Linked DNA regions of Homo sapiens. The protein of the gene in region 1 interacts with the protein of each later gene in a pairwise test. Each region holds a gene or a part of one and is shown on either strand. Other genes may lie near its edges.

Region 1 (3,386 bases):
CTTTTATCTTAAATGTATATATCCTTAAACAATATACTGTATAATTTGTTTGCTTTCCTGATCCTTTCTAAGAAATTATTTACATGGATTTTCTCTCTCCAAAGAAGATGGTGACAACTCACAAAGATACCTGCTTTTCCCCAGAACTATAGCTTTGCTGTAATGTACTAACATTGAGGATTTCTGGAAGAGAGAGAGCCATGGCATGACAGCCTTATCAGAGGGTAGCCTCAAGCTAAGATCTTAAAAAATAAGTACTGATTTAAATTATATTTAGAAGGCAATTCACACATCCACCTTAGATTTTTTAAAAATTCATTCATTCATTGAAAAACATTTCCTGATTGATTAGTTTGATTGTCCTCATACACTAATGATGCCCAGGAATCTCTCCACATTCTGCTTGTAATCCACAGGAATCATTATTTCAGGATGAGGGAAAGGCAATTCTGAATAATTGACCTGAACTTTCTTAGGGGCCCTCAATCTTAACGATGGGCTCAGGCACTATATTTTATAAAAAGAAAATAAATAAGACATAATATCTCACAAATATTAGTAGGACAATTAAATAGATCATCTGAAATCAGGTGTAGTGGAAAGTCAAGGATGGCAGTTGCCATGCTGCACTGAGCCCCCCTTATACTTAGCTCTTGCTGAGTTAAGAGGGAACCATGAGTGTGAGAAAGACTAACAAGTGAGTGAAAAACTAGACAGTAATACCAGGAGGAAGGCCAAGAAATGTATCACTAATTTCTTGTTTGATTTCAGAGCTGGAAACAACTTCTGGTGGATTCCTGTAGTGGGCCCTTTGGTTGGTGCTGTCATTGGAGGCCTCATCTATGTTCTTGTCATTGAAATCCACCATCCAGAGCCTGACTCAGTCTTTAAGACAGAACAATCTGAGGACAAACCAGAGAAATATGAACTCAGTGTCATCATGTAGTGGCATGCTCAGCTCTGGATTTGCAGTCAGTTTGGGATTCTCTTCAGAAAGATGGCATCTAAGTGTCTGTGTTCTTGTAAGCCTGAGGTGGAATCCACCCAGTTTTGTCTGCTAGCCATATGGGACATCTAATTGGAAAAGCATCTGCATAAAAGTTTGGAAACAATGACCACTTCTCTACCATTGTCCCCCACCCCCACCCCCCAGAATAACGCTGACTGTCCCCTGAAACAGCCTTCTCTCCTGCCCTGTTTATTTCATCCTCGATGGGAATTCTTGCTAGGTAAGCACTAATAACTCGGCATCTTGACGATAGTCCCATTTGGGTGGTTTCAGCTGCACTATCTGTATGAAATGGTGTCACCAAAACCCTTTTCTTCAGTATCGACAAAGATTACATTCTGAGTACCAACCAAACCCTAAATTGAAAGACAAAACTATGGTTTCAGTCAACATATTCATGAATTAGGGAGCTAATGGGTTAAGCTTCCAGTTCCCGCTATGCTACTGGATTTGTATAAATACTGATATTCTCCAAACCTAGTGGTGTAGGGAGCAAGAGAATGCAGCTGGAAGGCACAAGGGGAGGACATTGTGGCATTCAGAAACTGCAGGAGACAAGATGAATTTGAGAAGCCAAATGGAATTTTTAATGGAAACCATTTATCAGATTAATCTCTTGCTCTCCTGCATTTTAGAGGACACCAATTAATTTCCTGGTCTTTAGTATATAATAACCTAAAATACCATTGTAACCTCAGTCATGAAAAATACATCACTCTGTCTTTTTAGCTCAAATGTATTTTCCTAATTGCCCACTTGAGAACAGACATTTGACAAGTTATATCAACGACTGTGCTTGTCCATTATTTTACACATGCCCTAGAAGCCAAAACTGAAAGCCACTGGATCCTGGTCTAGCTGAATCTTCAGAGTGGGAGGTCTCCAAAAAGATATTACCTTATTGGGCTTAACAATTCACAAGGCACTTTCACACCCATTATCTAATTTAATCCTCATAATGACTATGTGAGGCAAATGCCACATTGCCCATTTTTCAGATAAAGAAACAAAATCTTAGGGAAGATAAGTTGAGTTGTCCAAGAGCACACTGAAAGTTGAATGTTATCTAATGCATTCCTCTACCTTTCAGAAGATCAGTAGCTGGCTGACAATCTTTGCCAAATCTTCCTTGCTAGCCAGAAGTGGAATTGGCAGCTTCTAGAATATGTACACCTCTGGACAAAATGTTCCTCAATCTTAAGATACAAAGACCCTCATTGTCTGGGTCTATTCCCACACTTACTGAGTACAGATGAAGGAAAGTGGTAGCAATTTAATCATAACTTTCATTTGCTGAAAAACATTATGAGAAGGCCTCCCTTCCTAAGCCACCTCTGGTCTTGCTAAGTCTTGATCTTGCTTCCTGCCAGCACCAAACATTACATTCAGGGGATTTCCTCTGGCTCAGTCTTTTCCCCTTGAAGTTCTCTAATAGATGTTACTTTTGACAAAAGATCGCCTATGAGTTACAAGCACCAGGGGATGCTCTACATCAAGGGATGCACCTTCAGTCAAACTGTCAAAAAGCCCAGAATTCCCAAAGGCATTAGGTTTCCCAACTGCTTTGTGCTGATATCAGAACAGCAGAAATTAAATGTGAAATGTTTCTGATGACTTATGTTCTACAATCTATGGACATACGGGATTTTTTTTTCTTGCTTTGAAGCTACCTGGATATTTCCTATTTGAAATAAAATTGTTCGGTCATTGTTGGTTGCTTGGTTGGTTTTTATAAGTATTAAGATTACTAAGTACGTCTAGTTCAGAGGTTGTCTATTGTGTCTACAAATTTGAATTTCCTGGGGGAACTTTTGAAAAAATACTGGTGCCCAGTTGGTCCTTTGTAAACATCTCAGGTGATTCTAAAATGCAGCAAGGGTTGAGAACATTGACTTGGGTAAATCACACGGGTCTAAAGTTTCTTTGACCATGTCCAGTAGTGGCCAGGTAATTCCTAGCAGGATTCCAGAGTCTTGGGATCCTCATGGATTAGAGCAATGGTTTTCCTCCCTCCCTACTTCTAAAGGGAACATGTGGCAATATTTGGAGACTTTTATGGTTATCACAACTGGGAAGGGGATGCTAATGGCCTCTAGTGGCTAGAGGCCAGGGATGCTGCCAAATATCCTACAATGCAAAGGCAACCCTCCCAACAGGTAATTATTTGGCCCAAAATGTCAATAATGCTGAGGTTCGGAGATCTTGGTGTCGAGGAAAGGTAGGGAGGGGAGTAAGAGAAGACACTGAAATCCTGCACCTTGATTCAAGTTCAGTCAGGAGCAAAGGTGCCAGACAAACCAGGAACAAACCCTGGGGGTGGACTATAATTCTTAAAGCAAGAGGCAATTCAAAATTTGAGTTTTGAGGATGAACTGTG
Region 2 (3,600 bases), on another chromosome or scaffold:
TCCAGCCTCAGCCTCCTGAGTAGCTGGGATTACAGAGGTGTGCCACCATGCCCTGCTAATTTTTGTATTTTTAGTAGAGACAGGTTTTCGCCATGTTGGCCAGGCTGGTCTGGAACTCCTGACCTCAGGTGATCTGCCCGCCTCAGCCACCTAAAGTGCTAAGATAATGGGTGTGAGCCACCATGCTCAGCTAGATAGAATGTTTTTTACTAACGTACTTACTTAGACTAATTTGAATTTTGGCATTGTAAGTTATACGTGTGCTACAGGAAGTCACCTGGAGAAATGGGTGCTCCTACTAATAGCTGGTATATATTGAGAAAACTATGCTTTGAGCTGTGTTTGGGTTGAAATTTGAAAAAGTCATCATTTCAATTTTCTTTCATAGTTGGCAAAGAGAAAAATGAGACTGGTGTCGAAGACTCTTCTAACGAATAAAATAGTCTATATATACTGTCGTGTCCAATTAATGTTGTATATATAATAACTTAAGTGAGCAAATTCCACTCCACATAGCCTACAGGTTAAATAAAAGTAAATTTTTTTTAATGTATTTCAAGGCCAAGTGTTACATTCCAGAAAGATTAATATGACTTTTGTATTTAACTCTGAATATCTCAGGTGAAAAAACTCTATTGAATAGTGCAAGAACTTATGAATATCTCAGAAACCCTCTTAAATGGAGCAAGAGACAAGAATCTGTGCAAATTTAAATTTTAAGAGACCCATTCTCCATTTGGCTAATAAACATATTCTTTACGACCTTAAAGTTACTCACATATAAGTGTTTTTTGTCTCCTTCTCTGGTACTTTGAAAAGTTTAAGGACTTGAGATACTAGGATTCTCTTCTCCCATAAATAACGTATTAAGTTTAGCATAATTAAAAATATTGTTAGGTTTGTAATTTCCATTTCCACTATTCTTTTTTTTTGAGACGGAGTCTCGCTCTGCAGCCCAGGCTGGAGTGCAGTGGCCCAATCTCGGCTCACTGCAACCTCTGCCTCCCGGGTTCAAGCAGTTCTCCTGCCTCGCCTCCCGAGTAGCTGGGATTACATGCGCGTGCCACCATGCCCGGCTAATTTTTTGTATTTTTAGTAGAGATGGGGTTTCACCATGCTGGCCAGGCTGGTCTTGAACTCCTGGCCTTGTGACCCGCCTGCCTCAGCCTCCCAAAGTTCTGGGATTACAAGCATTTCCACAATTCTTTAAACCTTATGGATGCTCTATTATAATACTTTGCTTTAAGAGTGGTCTACAAAACCACAGATAAGGCAAAGAAGAATAAAGCAAGATTGTCCCTTAGTGGTTACAATAACTAGGAGTAGGGATTCTGACATTCTTCCAGATTCTTAGGTGTTTACCCCACCTCGACCCATGCAATTTTTGTAGATTTTACAACACTTTCTTATTATTAGTTATGGGAATGACTATTTCAAGTTTGAGCTGTTTCCCAGAATATTTTCAAGAACAAATAACTCTAAAAAAATAACTGGAACTTTTATAGGAATGCATTCCCTGCAGATGTGCATCATCACCTAATATGCAAGGGTTCCACATGCCTCAACAGCTCATGACATTCGAAATCAATGTTTGAGTTTGATAATGTCTTATCTAACTAATTAAAAATAATTTTAACGTGCAAATTTCTTGTAACATCTTAATAGCATAAGAAATTAAAATATAAGTCAATAGCAAACAGAAATGATACAGAGAAACTGAAGCACACAGATGAATATAAATATCCCAATAAAACTTGTTCCGGGCAGCGGGCTGCAGGAATACGTTGCAAACGCAAGAGCAAAACAGGATGCAAACGTGGGAAAAATGGGAAATAAGTGGAGTTAGGACGGACAAAGACTGAGAAAGAGGAAGCAATCCCCTAAAAAGCAGAGAGGTTCCTCAGATGAAGGAGGGCAAAACGTCAACCACCACCTCAGCTCTGTTCTCTACTAATGCCCAAATGCAAGTGCATGGTAGGTAAAGGTGGGTTTTGCTCACACCGTTTTCTTAATTTGGCAAACTACGGTCAGATCCACATTAGCCGTTAAGTTTCCAGCCAGCAGTCCTTGAGAAATTCTCCAGGAAAGAAGACAGCCGTGTCGTCTAGTGACGCGCATGCGCAGTCTCAGCGCTGCGCGCTCCGTGTTTTATCCTACCCAGGCCTGGAAGGAAGTGACGCGAGGCTGAGGGGCGGGTTGCGCTGTGCGTCCGGAAGTGTCTCGCAGATAGTAAATAATCTCGGAAAGGCGAGAAAGAAGCTGTCTCCATCTTGTCTGTATCCGCTGCTCTTGTGACGTTGTGGAGATGGGGAGCGTCCTGGGGCTGTGCTCCATGGCGAGCTGGGTAAGGTGCTTTTTGCGGCCTCTGGGGTGCTAGTGTGAGAGACCAAAGAGAAGGCGATCCGAGCCGGGGCTGGGTGAGCCCGGCGGGAATGTGGTGCCCCACCCAACAGGGAGTGCCCTCTCTGTCCCCGTTTTCTTCCCGTCTCCTCTCGTCACTCAGACTCAGCTTCAGAGCTTTGGGTCTTGCGAAGAACTGATCACTGGCCGTAAGGTTTAGTGGCGATGGGAAGATGACTCAAATTGAGGAAGAGAACTAGAATAGGGCCCCTCCCCCACCCCTGCTTCGTGAACGCTGTCTCCCATTCTTTGAGGTCCCTTTTCGTGGTTTTGTTTGTATCTGCGCAGGCCATCTCTACAAAGGTCTTTGCCCCTTTCCTTCGGTGGGGTACCCACTCTGTTGTCATCTCTTTCCTGGCGACCTCAGACTGCCGCACTGTCGTTCCTGGATTCATGTCGCCCTCTTTGTTCAGTGGCGCAGATTATGATTAAAAAGTGCCTGTCGTCATTTGGAACCGCCTGGCAGTAATGCTAATGTAGTAATATTGTTTTTGAAACAAATAGTCATAGCTCTGCCGTAACTGTTTGAAGTGTCAATTTCAGATTTCAACTTAAAATTGAAATTTCAGATGACACACGCATGCCTTGTGCCTAATGACAATTTTGTCTTTAGGCACAAAACATGCGTGTGTCATCTGAAATTTCATGCTTAATTAGCTGTACATTGCATTTTCATTAAAGAGTTGTTAGAGTAAAACTATTTTCAGTATAGTGGCAAGACTTTGGTCCGTGTGGCACAAATTTCAGTTTATTTAAGATAATCTCTGCCCCCTCCAAAATAGTAGGCAAAACATTGGCAGTGCAGTTAATAAAGATATTTGTAATTTTAGGCGAGGTATTTGGACTCAAATCACTTTTCTTTAGTCTGGAATTTGTTAATTCTGTTTCTAACAATTGCTTTTCTGACTTCCCAAATGATTCCGTTATATATACTCTTAAAGGTTTTGATATGTCTTGAACTAAAAATGTTGAATTTTAATCAAATAATAATGTGGGGATTGTTACTCCAGCCAGTCTGTTCTTTTGATTATATGGTATTTCTTCTTGCACGGAAGCCTGGAATATTTTATCTCAAGATATTAGAGAGTTTAATTATTGACTTTTATACAAAAGAGGCATATTTAGTGTGATAAACAGTTTTGAAAACTGATAATTGATTATCATATAAGATTGTTTTCATCGGTTTTTTATTGGAAGATG

What was found. The genes of interacting proteins can lie anywhere in the genome.
Region 2: the proteins of AQP9 (region 1) and SERINC1 interact in binary tests that used the Homo sapiens proteins (3 or more experiments, as listed by UniProt).

Annotation. Positions count from the first base shown.
Region 1 is NC_000015.10:58,183,190-58,186,575, forward strand, and holds the end of AQP9 (aquaporin-9), read left to right. Parts: intron 1-771; coding exon 772-946; 3' UTR 947-2,722; downstream 2,723-3,386. UniProt on the Homo sapiens protein: Aquaglyceroporins form homotetrameric transmembrane channels, with each monomer independently mediating glycerol and water transport across the plasma membrane along their osmotic gradient.
Region 2 is NC_000006.12:122,470,443-122,474,042, reverse strand, and holds the start of SERINC1 (serine incorporator 1), read left to right. Parts: upstream 1-2,235; 5' UTR 2,236-2,305; coding exon 2,306-2,344; intron 2,345-3,600.